Linked DNA regions of Homo sapiens. The protein of the gene in region 1 purifies or fractionates together with the protein of each later gene. This does not show direct contact. Each region holds a gene or a part of one and is shown in the gene's direction. Other genes may lie near its edges.

What was found.
Region 2: the proteins of CDNF (region 1) and NFS1 purify together in Homo sapiens (affinity purification with mass spectrometry; 3 studies listed by BioGRID and IntAct, with this or other methods). This does not show direct contact.

What each region holds. Positions count from the first base shown.
Region 1 is NC_000010.11:14,835,013-14,842,538, reverse strand, and holds the start of CDNF (cerebral dopamine neurotrophic factor precursor), read left to right. Parts: upstream 1-4,501; 5' UTR 4,502-4,592; coding exon 4,593-4,707; intron 4,708-7,526. Other genes in the region: MSANTD7 (zinc finger and SCAN domain containing 29), read right to left, coding at 1-254; HSPA14 (heat shock 70 kDa protein 14), read right to left, coding at 2,382-2,464, 2,554-2,634, 4,080-4,136. UniProt on the Homo sapiens protein: Trophic factor for dopamine neurons. Prevents the 6-hydroxydopamine (6-OHDA)-induced degeneration of dopaminergic neurons.
Region 2 is NC_000020.11:35,675,335-35,682,359, reverse strand, and holds part of NFS1 (cysteine desulfurase isoform a precursor), read left to right. Parts: intron 1-378; coding exon 379-472; intron 473-1,488; coding exon 1,489-1,623; intron 1,624-7,025.

The sequences.
Region 1 (7,526 bases):
CCCATACTTGTGGCATGGGCAACATAGGCCTTTAAATATAATGCCTTCAGAACTTTAAACTTGGAGCGGCACTGACGTTCGGTGCGGCGGAAGCCCTCCTGCTGCATTCGCTTAGACACAGCCTGATAGACATCTGCATTGTGATGCACAGTCTGGAGGCGCTGAATATACTCTGCCTCGCCTAGTATGGAGAGAAGAGTTCGTGTCTCCTGTCTGGACCACCGGATGCCCGCACTGCTATTGGCACTGGCCATTGTGGGTTGGAAAGGAGGGCTAGGCAGCTTCTGGACAGCAAGGTGCAAGTCTGAAGGTGTGGGGAAGCTCTGTGTGCTCTCAGGATATCTCCAGGATCTTCCCTCTCAGGGATAATTGCTGAGAAGCCAGGTCCAAGGACCGCATTTCTGGCTGGAAGGCCACAGGGGAATGAGAGTTACAGGAAGGGTGTAAGGATAATTTTGGCAGCAAGTTAAGTGGTGCTACCTGTGAGTAGGTCATAAACAGGCATGAGGCCAAGACTGAGATAGCCCAACTTTGGGAGTTCACCCAGGGTAGACACGGCACCAAGAACCTAATGGCTTGGTAACAAAAAGGCCAAATGCTTTCATGGCTGAGAGTTGGTACAACAATGGATCTGTAAAAATCACCCTTGTCTGGTGAGTAGATGGGCTGGGAGGGAAAATCACCTGGACCATGAGGCAGCTAACGCTAAAGGAGTCCAAGCATGACCACGGTATAGCAATCTGAAAGATGCTCAGTCTTTACTAATCACAGCACGCTGTGGCTCTGTGTTACCCATCTGACTGTCAGTGTGGGCCAGAAAAGTGAGTTTAAGTTGCTCTGCTAATACAAATTTTTTTTTTGCACAATATGGCAGAAGAAAGCCACATAATTACTCTAACCATGTGCCCTCAAACAGCAGCATAAAACAAACAGTAACATATTGTTGGCTACCAGGGGAGAGATCTATGGAAATGTTCTGTATCTGGACTATATCGATGTGAGCATCTTGGTTGTGACACTGTACTATAATTTTGCAAGATATAACCACGGGGAGAGGTGGTGAATCCAGCAATGTGTTTGATGTCTCTGTATTATTTCTTACACAGCAGCATGGGAAACTGCAATTCTCTCTAAATAAAAAGTTTAATTAAAAAAATCATATTGTTGGCTGCTCAGTGATTTGGGCTTGAAGACCCATCTACGATTCTTTTTTCTAGACTTTATGATCTGAAAATATTTGACACCAACTTATATTTAATATGCTCGGTACTAAGTTTTATCAATAGGTAAAAGGATATGGGGATGTATTTATTGTCACTGAATATTGAATTCTCTCCAAACAACTATAGTTTTTGGCTTAGTGCATAAGTATCCTGAGGAAAAAGATTAATATCAAGTTCAATTTAATTGAACACAGGTAAGAGACAGAAAATAAGATAAACAGGTAAGAGATACCTGCATAAATTTAATCTATAATATCCAATTCTAAATCAACACCAGGACATTTTTACTTAAATTCTCACTAAACAAAGTTGAAAGAAAAGAACCTGGGGCCGAGGGTGAGGAGACCTGATCTGCAGTCTTACCCAGTTTACCCCCTAGGATAATGCCACAATTTCTTTGTACCTTGATTTTCTCATCTATAAATGGGGAATGATAGTATTTGCGTTGCCAATTTTACAAGGATGTTGAGAGAATTAAATAAAATAATAGATGTGAAAGCACTTTGAAAATTTAAAAACACTCTATCAAGTATTACTACAGTAGTGAAAATGAAAACCCCTAATTATTATAGCAATCTATAATTTGAGGAGACAGAAGTCTGGGGAAGCAAGCCTGTTTTAATCTTCTAATTAAACTTACAACAGATGATTAATCTGATTCTTACATAAGACGTTAATTTAGCTGTTACTCTAATGATTAAATTTGTAAGTCAAGTGGAAAAGTTCGTTCCCAGAAAGTGTCACAAAAGATCCTGAGGAAGAAAATCAATAGTGTCTACATAAATTACGAAAAATTGTAATAGATTCAGCAAAATTCAACCACATTGTCAATAAGTCTTCAAATTCCCACAAAATCTTTGAAATCCTCTCAGTTAAAAAAAATCTAAAAATGTGAACAATCCAAATTACCACCTCTGACGCAAATTACCAAATTGACCTGTCAGCAAGAAACTAACATCTGAGTGAATCCCATATCAGAGAAGATCCAACACTAAGAATCAAAAGACACTGCCTACTGGGGGTACTCTCTGTAATGACTCAGTCATAAAAAGCAATGAAGAAACAAACTATGCTGTTTCTAATTTCTTTTCACATTATGCTTAGAATTTATGAACATGTTCCTATTACCATATTTAAAAGTATCATTTGATTCCATACCTTCTGCCCAGGATCTGCTTTACTTTCATTACTGTATTTGAAATATTTCTTATTCTACTTTGTTTTGCTGCCAATCCAACAATCTGAAAAAAAAAATAATATATATATATATATATTACAATGTATGTAATTTTAAATTATTTCAGAAGTACAAAAATGGGGGGACTAGTACCTCTTCATTTTCTGAGTAAGCAACAACAGCTGGAGTAACTCGGTCACCGGCATCATTTGCAACCACACCAGCCCGGCCATCCTAGAGAAAAAAACACGAAATACATAGTCTCATTAGACGTATTCAGACGTGTGCATTTGTGCACCAGTGTTACTTTGCCATCTGTGTGGAAAGAAAAACTGCTATCTCAATATTTTAAACTTGCAAATTTAATTACCATTTAATTTCCTCGTTTTCATAGAAAGCCTATAATTCCATGAAGAACTGCCTCATGTTTTCAGTCTGCTCTGCAAAGTCAACAATTGAATCAAAAGTAATAACAACCTTTCTACACACAAAACGAAGGCTATTATTACGTTACCTTTCCTACCTCTCTTCCTTCTTACCATTACCATTTCTTTTTTTTTTTTTTTTGGACACGGAGTCTTGCTCCGTGGCCCAGGCTGGAGTGCAGACTGCAGTGCCAGATCTCGGCTCACTGCAACTTCCGCCTCCCGGGTTCAAGCCATTCTCATGCCTCAGCCTCCTGAGCAGCTGGGATTACAGGCGTTCCCGGCTAATTTTTAGTATTTTTAGTAGAGGCGGGGTTTCACCATGTTAGCCAGGCTGGTCTAGAACTCCTAACCTCACGTGATCCGCCTGCCTCGGCTTCCCAAAGTGCTGGGATTACAGGCGTAAGCCACCGCGCTGGGCCCCTTTCTTCCCATTTCTACAAATGAAGTAGTATTATTCCCTTTGGCTTTTCCTAACAAGTCATTTGACATTTAAACGCGGGACTAGTGGCAACGGAGTTCATGATTATCGTTTCTTCTGCCTCCCCACTGATGAGAGAAAGGCCACAAGTCCTGTCAGGCTCTCACTTCCAGAAAGGCCACCTCTGTAGACCACGCACCATCAACTGGCTTCACAGCCAGGCAGCTTTGCGGGACCATCAGCCCCAGCTCGACTGCAGCCTCCCCGCCCCTCCGGGACCTAGACGTTCGGGCCCAGCTCAGCGCGTTCTGCGGCCCTGCTGTCCCAGAGACCACCGCCTCCAAGTACCTCGCGGCCACAACTTTCCCAGGACCTCCCACCCGCGGGAATCCTGAGGCCCTGACGTCAGCGAGACCCCTTCCGGCATCCAGAGGCCAGGACGTCCCCGTGACCTCCCCCAAAATGCTCGCAGCCCCGCCGTCCCCGGGACCCCCCGGGACACCCAGCGGCCCCGCTGTCTCCGGGACCCCCCCGGGCACCCTGCAGCTACGTCGTCCCTGGGACCCCTCCGGGCATCCCGCCGCCATGACGCCCTGGGACCCCGCGCGTCTACATCGCCGCGAGCCTCCGCCGCGGAGTAGACGACTTTCCGGAGGAATCGCCAGGCGCGAGGCCGGGCCTGCCCGGCCCTTCGCTCCGGAGTGTCCTCGCGGCAACGCCACTCCACGACATCCCTAGGCCGGCGACACGCCGCTCTCAAGCCTGTGGATGACCCAGCGCCAGAAAACCGGGTGGCCGTCATGAAGCCCTAGCCCAGCTCCGCAGCCCCTCACCTTATAGACGGCCACACAGGCTGAGGTGCAGCCCAGGTGAACTCCGATGGCCGCCATGAGGCAGCAGGGACGGCAGCGGCAGGAATGAGGGGGTCCCCCAACAGCAACAGCTACCGGCCGCCCAACGGCCCCATCAGGCACCGCGGAGCTTCACGTTCCCGCCAGCCCCCTGCGTCCGGTCGGCCGCTACAGCCTCCCGCGTCGCCGCCAATCAGCGTGAAGGTTCCGCCTTTCTTCACGCGCAGTCCGCGAGTAGCTTCAGCGCGTCTCTGCGCTCCGCGGAAACTGCACAGTGCGCACGCGCAACCGGGGAGGGACGGGAAAAGGCTCCTACACTCCGCCCCCTTCCTATCCCTTCCTTGAGAGCCAATGGAAACTCTGTGTTCAGTTGCGTCATTTGTCCTGGCAACTACTGGCAGATTCTTTCCAACCTCGAATTCTGCTCAGCTCGCTTTGGCAGCTTGGTGGGCGGTGGGCGCGGGTGGCGGAGGCGATTGAAGCTGCTGGCCCAGCATGTGGTGCGCGAGCCCAGTTGCTGTGGTGGCCTTTTGCGCCGGGCTTTTGGTCTCTCACCCGGTGCTGACGCAGGGCCAGGAGGCCGGGGGGCGGCCAGGGGCCGACTGTGAAGGTGAGCGGTGTGACAACTGCTTGCATGGCGGCGGCCCCGCGCTGCGGCGCAGCAGCTGTCGGCTTTGGCTTCTCCTGGCCCTGGCTATAAATAACATTCCGCCCAGGAAATGCAGGCCCTGTCCCTCGTTTTAGATCGCCCAAGCCCAGCTCGAGTAAAAAGCTCAAGCCGGGCCTGGTGGTAACGTGAGGCCACGTTGTGGTTTTGCTGTGAATATTAAACTTCAGCAGTAAAAGCTGGTGGGTTTGTATTTGGATTAGAGTTTGTGCAAAGAATGCTAGATTCAGATGATACTGGCGCCAGATTGATTCTGCTGCTTCCAACCAGCAAGATTTGCCTCCCCTTGCACAGAAGACGTCTTTCAAGTCCAAGCTAGTTGGTGACTCCCCAAAGGAAAACAAAACATGGCATTGAGTTGAGTAGCTTAAATCAGAGGACATAGCTAATATTTGTTAGGACTCTGTAGGTGAAAATTGCTTTGCAAAGGAGTACACTGACTCCTTGGGAAAGAGAGGAATACAAAAGAGTGGTTCCTTTTTGTTCACGGTATCTCAGCTGTGAACTCGCAGTCAGAATACGTGAGTCTGTATCCCACCAAGTCCCCTAGCTCTGAGACTTTGGTTTTTGCAAAATCAGCGTACTTCACTTTAGAGATCTGTTAGCAAAGGCAAAGAAGGTAAGTGGCTATGCTAGCCCCTTCCTTCTGGACTCCTGTAGCGCTCACTCCATGTTTTACTGAAAATAATTAGTTTAAATGTATATGCCCTCAGCTGGAAAATATATCCCTAGTGAACAGGAAATTGTAGGTTCATCATATATGTTGAGTGAATGGATGGGTATAGTCGTACTAAAGTTGTGTTTTTGTTTGTTTTGTTGTTTTGTTTTTTGTTTTTGTTTTTGTTTTGAGACAGTCTCACTGTGTTGCCCAGGCCGGAGTACAGTGGCACAATCTTGGCTCACTGCAGCCTCCATCATCGGGTTCCAGCGATTCTCCTGCCTCAGCCTCCCAAGTAGCTGGTACTAAAGGCACCACCACCACGCCTGACTAATTTTTATATTTTTAATAGAGATGCAGTTTCACCATGTTGGCCAGACTGGTCTTGAACTCCTGGCCTCAGGTGATCGGCCCGCCTCAGCCTCCCAAAGTGCTGGGATTACAGGCGTGAGCCACAGCGCCCAGTCCTTAAAGTGTTAATAATTGGAGCCTGGCTTTCTATGAGCTCTGCAATAATTAAACTTTTCTCCAGAAATTTAAAATATCTACATGTTATTACTCGATATAAAGATATTTGTTTAGCTAAGTTATAATTTTGCTCCAAACCATGCTATAATTGTGTCCTATACTTTTAAAACAGACTTTGTGAGGCAAAGACAATTGATTTGATGACTCATCTGGGGCTCCCACTTATAAATGTTTCAAGAGAGACAGCATCTGGATTAATTAAATGGGAAGCTTATGCTGTCTGTCCTAAATTTATTACAGCATGCTGTGATTATTGCATGTCTGACTAACCTGTCTATATATTTCATTTGTTAGGTAAAGAAGCTTGTGTAATCGCAGAGGAAGGACATAACAGTTTGGTAACTAAAAGAACCAGATTCTGCATCCAGCTCTATTACTGCTTATGAGTGATCCTCCCTCCTCAGCCTCCTTTCTTATTTACAACTTAATTTCTTCTCAATGTATAAGATTAAAATGCCATATTATACATACTCTAGAGCGAAGGCAAAAAAACTGAATGGTTCCTGAGCCGTCTCGGACCTATTGATATGTTTCGTTACATTTACAAAATATTTTGAAAAAAATTAAATTCACTGGGTACATTTTAAAATTGGGAAATTTTATGTAAAAATTCATATTTCTGGCTTTTCTCAAAAAACCAGATGACCTGGCAAGATTGGCCTTATGGCTGTATAGTAGAATTGGCTATTGGCTGCTCTTTTTAGAAAGGACTTGGGTTTTGAGTAGTTTGCCGCCCCTACTCTGCCCCCGATTCAAATTGCTTAACTCTTCTTTTTCCTTGCCTGGCCCCTGTAGATATTCAAGTCTGTGAGTCCTATTATTAGGTAATGTGAGGTTTACTGGAAAAACATAAATATTTCCAAATCTCTTTTAAAGGATTATATTATGGGACTATTTTAAATAACTTTTTATTTTAAAATAATTATAGATTCACTTATAAAACTATCTTTAATAAACATAAAAGCACAATATAAATAAAAGAAGTATGGCTATCTGAGGTTATTTTAGCAATAAAGACATCCCAGAAAACTTAAGAAGCTACTAATTTGTTAGGGCATTTATGGTGAGGTTATTCTCTTCATGTAAGTCCAGAAAATGAGTTTCCTTTCTTACCTTGACTTCTTTGTGGTGTGTGACACCATTGACATCTTTCCCTTTCAGAGACTGCCTTCTCTTCATGGTCATGATACTGCTTTTCTCCTTCCTGTCTCTATGCCCACTTGTCCAGTGTGTCTTTGTGGGCTTCTGATCCTCTAGCCATGGCTTAGAATTTTCCAGGGTTCTGCTCTCTTCTCTTCTCTCTTCTCAGTCTACACACTCTTCTTGGCAACCCAAACCAACCTACCTCCAGTCTAATAAATCTCTAACCTTATATCCACTGACCTTTCTAGAGTCTCAGACCTTGCATCCAATTGACTAGTGAACATGCCCTCTTAGATATGATGTACATCAACATCAACACAGTCAAAAAACCAAAGTCATCATCTCCTTCCCTTCTCACTCCCCTAAACCTGTTACTGTCATGCTTACGGTGACAGCATGGGACAACTACCTGGTCACCTAGCCTAGATTCTAG
Region 2 (7,025 bases), on another chromosome or scaffold:
GGTTTTTGGTATTACGAATAAAGTTATTGTGAACATTTGTGTAAGATGTTTTGTGAATTTAATTTTCATTTCTCTGGGATAAATGCCCAAGTGTACAGTTACTGGGTTCTATGGTAATTTCATGTTTAGTTTGATGAGAAACAGAAACTGTCAAACTGTTTTCCAAAGTGGCTGTGATATTTACATTCCCACTAACAATGTATGAACCATTCAGAGTCTGTGCATCCTCACCAACATTTTGTGTTGTCACTGTTTTTAGTTAACTATTCAGATAGGTATGTAGTATAAGACTCCTTTTCATGACTAAGTTTGCCTATATTCTGATTTAGGAGGACTTTGTTTGTACTATCTAGTCACCTTACTCCTGCATATCCCTAGGAACTAGAGGCTGCTATCCAGCCAGATACTAGCCTGGTGTCAGTCATGACTGTGAACAATGAGATTGGAGTGAAGCAGCCTATTGCAGAAATAGGTGAGTATCATGGCTTATCCCTGATCCCTGCCCACCATGGGGCTCTGTATGAGGTAGTATACTGAGAGCTGTAATACTCTATGGAGTGTAGTTAGGAAATCAAGGGAAAGCCTAAGTACTTTGTTCAAGGACATTGGAAGTGTCATAGGCAGTATTTGAATCCAGGTCTATTACCATTTTTTTTTTCATTGAGACAGAGTATCACTCTGTCACCTAGGCTGGAGTGCAGTGGTGTGATCTCAGCTCCCTGCAACCTCCTCACTCTGGGTTCAAATGATCCTACCGCCTCAGCCTCTTGAGTAGCTGGGACTACAGGTGTGTACCACTATGCCTGGCTAATTTTTGTATTTTTAGTAGAGATGAGGTTTTGCCATGTTGGCCAGGCTGGTCTTGAACTCCTAACCTCAGGTGATCCGTCTGCCTTGGCCTCCCAAAGTGCTGGGATTACAGGCGTGAGCCACTGCTCCCGGCCAGGTCTAGCACCTTTTATGGTTTTTAATTTTATTGCAGTTGCTGCCAAAACCAACCACAAAACAAAAAAGCCTGCTACTCTTTTTCCTTTTAGAACATCTCTATTCTCCCCACATAGAGATCGCCCTGTAATTTCTTTAGGCACATTAGCACAAAGATCTGTTAATCTTGTTTTTTTTTTTTTATTTTGTTTTGTTTGTTTTTTAATCAAAAGGGATCTAGAAAGTAATCTGACATTTTGAAAGGCTGGTGTTAATGAGGTGGTGAGAATTGTATGCATAAGAATATCACGAGTGTTTCGATCTGGTGCTTTGCCCTTCATCTTTTTTATTCTAAAGAAGGGAAGCTACTGAGACACAGAGAGGGAGGAAGGGGGAAGGGGGAGGAGGGAAGGAAAAGAGGAAGGAGAAGGGGTAGAAGGAGGGAGGGGAGGAGTTTAATATTTACAGGTCATTTACTATTGGAGATAATTCACAGTGCACTGTGGGACTCTGACAGATGACTTTCCAACATTGTGCTGTGGGTCTTCCCCTCTGTTTCCTCAGGGCGGATTTGCAGTTCCAGAAAGGTATATTTCCATACTGATGCAGCCCAGGCTGTTGGAAAAATCCCACTTGATGTCAATGACATGAAAATTGATCTCATGAGCATTAGTGGTCACAAAATCTACGGTCCCAAAGGTACCAGCCCCTTCTAGAGTTCCTTCTCTCTGTACCTTCCAGCAAGACCTTTGATAGATGTTTGTCACAGTCATTTGGGACTACTGTTGCTCTCAGAGGAAGTTGTACATTCAGAGTCCCTTGTAGAATGCAAATGTCATTTAGCAATAGCCAGAAACACTTGCTTGTTTGTAGACCTTAGCAGTTACTATACATCAGGCCATTCTTTCTTGCTCTCTTTAACAAATCCTTAGCAAGCATGTAGATCTTAATTTGGTTGAGGAAAAATGGGTTTTGTCAAATCAAATTTATCTAGATAGGCCCAGCTATCTTGTTTTCCCCACTATGATGTGCAGAGCAACTATTTGAGTCCCTCATTCCCAGTGTCTTGCTATAGCTCAGGGGAAGATTGCATGGGATTTGACATCTCTTTGTGTTCTTTTTTTTTTTCTTGAGACGGAGTCTCGCTCAGTCGCCCAGGCTGGAGTGCAGTGGCGCCATCTCGGTTCACTGCAAGCTCCACCTCCCTGGTTCACGCCATTCTTCTGCCTCAGCCTGCCGAGTAGCTGGGACTACAGGCGCCTGCCACTACGCCCGGCTAATTTTTTTGTATTTTTAGTAGAGACGGGGTTTCACCATGTTAGCCAGGATGGTCTTGATCTCCTGACCTCGTGATCCGCCCGTCTCGGCCTCCCAAAGTGCTGGGATTATAGATGTGAGCCACCAAGCCCAGCTATCTTTGTGTTTATTCTTAGAAGACTTCATAGTCTGTTATCCTGTTAGTCTCTCAAGGATACATGTTTGTTCCCTATGGTCCTATTGGAATGTGTTCAAGCTTGAGTTATGCCTCTTTCCCTTAACCCTTGGGAATAGACTGTTGTCCTCTGTTTTGTGAAGGTAACCATAAAATATAAATATAAAATATAACTCCTCTTTCTCAAGTGAGGGCCTTTTTTGGGTTGATGTCTGTGCTGGTACCCTTTTTATGTCTGCAGGGTGTGTTATCTGGGTGTATACCTTGTGGAAGTAGGTGTAATAGCTTCTGGAATTATGGAAGATGGCGTCTTCTAAGGGTTCCCAGAGGTTGTAGAGTGTTTTTTGTGAGTTATTATTTCAAAAAGCCCAGTAAGCGTTCTGTCTTTTAATAAAATGTTGCTTTTATTGGCTTTTATTGTAGATAAGTCTTTTTGATAAAAACCAATGAACTCAGGCTGGATACCCCATTCTTCATCATGTGCCTATTTCACATTATATGCCTGTATTAAAACATCTCATGGGCTGGGCACGGTGGCTTACACCTGTAATCCCAGCACTTTGGGAAGCCAAGGCGGGCGGATCACGAGGTCAGGAGTTCAAGACCAGCCTGATCAACATGGTGAACCCCCGTCTCTACTAAAAATAAAAAAATTAGCCGGGTGTGGTGGCATGTGCCTTTAATCCCAGCTACTCAGGAGACTGAGGCAGGAGAATCGTTTGAACCCAGGAGCCAGAGGTTGCAGTGAGCCGAGATCACACCACTGCCTGGGCGACAGGCGAGACTCCCTCTCAAAAACAAAAAAAATCTCATGAACTCCATAATATATATACCTCCTGTGTACTCACAAAAATTTTAAAAACAAAAAACCAATGAACTCATTGATCAGAAGCTCTGATCAACACTTACATGTGTACAGGTGTCCCTCATTATCCAACCTCCTGCTTTCCAAGTCCAGAATCTAAATAGATTTAGATAATGTGGCATTCTTCACTGTTCAGACATGGTATTTGAGCACTTGCTGTTTGAATTTGGGAACTGTTTAGACTCAGATAGTATAAGATTCTTGAATTTTTTTAAATGGAGAAATGAAATAATTCTTAATAAATACAGTTTAATACATTATTTTATTCATTTGTTTTATAGGGACAAGGTCTCACTCTGTTGCTCAGGCTGGAGTGCAGTGGTGCTATCCTACCTTGCCACAGCTTCAATCTCCTGGGCTCAAGCAACCCTCCTACCCCAGCCTCACCAGTAACTAGCACTACAGGTGTGCACCAACACGCCTAATTTTTTTTTTTGAGACAAAGTCTTACTCTGACGCCCAGGCTGGAGTGCAGTGGTGTGATCTCGGCTCGCTGCAACCTCTGCCTCCCAGGTTGAAGGGATTCTCCTCTCTCATCCTCCTGAGTAGCTGGGATTATAGGCCCACTGTGCCCGGCCATGCCTGGCTAATTTTTTTTTTTTTTTTTTTTGAGACAAAGTCTCGCTCTTGTCCCCCAGGCTGGAGTGCAATGGTGAGATCTCGGCTCACTGCAACCTCCGCCTCCCGGGTTCAAGCGATTCTCCTGCCTCAGCCTCCCAAGTAGCTGGGATTACAGGTGCCTGCCACCACGCCTGGCTAATTTTTGTATTTTATTTTATTTTTTGAGACGGAGTCTCGCTCTGTCACCCAGCCTGGAGTACAGTGGCGTGATCTTGGCTCACTGCAAGCTCCGCCTCCAGGGTTCACGACATTCTCCTGCCTCAGCGTCCCAAGCAGCTGGGACTACAGGCGCTTGCCACCACGCCCGGCTAATTTTTTTTTTTTTGTATTTTTGTAGAGACGGGGTTTCACTGTGTTAGCCAGGATGGTTTTGATCTCCTGACCTCATGATCTGCCCGCCTCGGCCTCCCAAGGTGCTGGGAATACAGGTGTGAGCCACCACACCCGGCCTAATTTTTGTATTTTTAGTAGAGACAGGGTTTCACTATGTTGGCCAGGCTGGTCTCGAACTCCTGACCTCAGGTGATCCACCCACCCTTGGCCTCCCAAAGTGCCGGAATTACAGGCGTAATCCCGTGCCCGGCCCAATGCCTGGCTAATTTTTAAAACAGTTTTTGTAGAGATAGAGGTTTCACTATGTTACTCAGGCTTGAATTCCTGACCTCAAGCAACCCTCCCGCCTCAGTCTCCCAAAGTGCTGGGATTACAGGCATGACCCACTGCACCCAGCTTATTATTTAAAATCTGGTGTCCTTCATAATCGATTTGGAAACCACTGCCTTAATTTTTATAGTACCTCCATTCTCAGCATAAACAGTTTTTCTGTGTGGGAGAACTGTCAAGTGCCAATTCTATTCAGAAGCCCTGATTACTTGGTGAATAACTTTGCATGCTCATGCTCATATTTTGGCACAAAATTTCTGTAATTCGGCTTGTTTAGTCACAGGTTATACGCATTTTTAAGTTTTTTGTTTTTTTGAGTCAAGGTCTCAGTCTGTTGCCCAGCCTGGAGTGGAGTGAGTGGCACGATCATAGCTCACTGCAGCCTCGACCTCCTAGGCTCAAGTGATCCTCCTGCCTTAGCCTCCAGAGTAGCTGGGACTATAAGTGCATGCCACCATGCCCAGCTAAGTTTTAATTTTTTTTTTTGTAGACACGGGGTCTCACTGTGTTTCTCAGGCTGGTCCCAAACTTCTGGTCTCAAGTGATTCTCCTTCCTTGGCCTCCCAGAATGCTGGGATTGTAGTCATGAGCCACCGTGCTCCACCAAATTGTTTTTAAATTTAAATTTTATTTTGAAAAAGTAATATTCATGTGATTCAAAATTCAAAAGCTACAAAAAAGTGCACAGACAGCCAGGTGCAGTGGCACACGCCTGTAATTGCAGCACTTTGGGAGGCCGAGGCGGGCAGATCATGAGGCCAGGAATTTGAGACCAGCCTGTCCAACATGGTGAAACCCCGTCTGTACTAAAAATACAAAAATTAGCCATGCGTGGTGGCGGGTGCCTGTAATCCCAGCTAATCAGGAGGCTGAGGCAGGTGAATCACTTTAACCGGGAAGGTGGAGGTTGCGGTGAGCTGAGACCGTGCCATTGCACTCCAGTCTGGGCAACAGAGCAAGACTCTTGTCTCAAAAAAAAAGGGAAAAAAAAGGCACAGACAAAAGTCTGCCTCTCACCTCTGACCTCCAGCTATGCAGTTCCCTTCTGGGGAGGTAATTTCTTTCTTGGTTTTTTTTTTTTTTTTTTTTTTTTTTTCTGATTTTCTCTGGTTATTGGGAGGCAATTTCTTGGGTTTTTCTACAATTATCCTATGTGTTTACAAACAAATATATACTTCTCCTCCAGCTTTCTTTTTTATCCAGATGATAGCATACTGTACTCACTGTTTCAATCTTTCATTTTTCACCTAATGGTACATCTTTTTTTTTTTAGACAGAGTCTTGCTCTGTCACTAGGCTGGAGTGCAGTGGCACAATCTTGGCTCACTGCAACCTGTGGCTCCCAAGTTCAGGCGATTCTCCTGCCTCAGCCTCCTGAGTAGCTGGGATTACAGGTGCGTGCCACCACGCCCAGCTAATTTTTGTATTTTTAATAATTACGGGGTTTCACCATGTTGGTCAGGCTGGTCTCGAACTCCTGATTTCATGATCTGTCCGCCTCGGCTGCCCAAAGCACTGGGATTACAGGTGTGAGCCACCGTGTCCAGCCCATAATACATTTTTTTTTTTTAGACGGAGTTTTGCTCTTGTTGCCCAGGCTGGAGTGCAATGGTGCCATCTCAGCTCACTGCAACCTCTGCTTCCCGAGTTCAAGCAATTCTTCTGCCTCAGCCTCCCTAGTAGCTGGGATTACAGGCATGTGCCACCATGCCTGGCTAATTTTGTATTTTTAGTGGAGAAGGGGTTTCTCCATGTTGGTCAGGCTGGTCTCAAACTCCCGAACTCAGGTGATCCACCCACCTCAGCCTCCCAAAGTGCTGGTATTACAGGCGTGAGCCACTGCGCCCGGCCAATACATCTTTGTTTTTTCAAGCTAAAGTACAGACTTTTTTTTGGATTTCACCAGTTTTGTAACAATGTATCTTGGAGATTTTATGGTGTCAGTTCAGAACAAGCTTCTTCTTTTTTTTTTTTTTTTTTTTGGGAGACAGAGTCTTGCTCCATCACTCAGGCTGGAGTGCAGTGGCTTGATCTCAGCTCACTGCAACCTCTACCACCTGGGTTCATCTCATGTCTCAGCCTCCTGAGTAGCTGGGATTACATGTGCCTGCTACCACGCTTGGCTAATCTTTGTATTTTTAGTAGAGAGAGGGTTTCACCATGTTGACCAGGCTGGTTTCTAACTTCTGATCTCAGGTGATCCGCCCGCCTTGACCTCCCACAGTTGGGATTATAGGCGTGAACCACCACACCCGGCCCCCTCATTCTTTTATACACCTGCTTGGTATTTCATTGTATGGACATGCCATAATCTATTTGACCATTACCCTGATGATGGACATCTAAGTTGTTCCCAGTATTTTTGCTATTATGAATAATACTGTAATGTATGATGGCATTTCATATAGCATAGGGAGCTACTTTAAACCATTTTGATCATTACTCCTTCTGGCATTTATCTTCCAGATGTTAAATATTTTACTAAATACTATGCTTTTACTGCTGTTTCTTCTTTTCCTT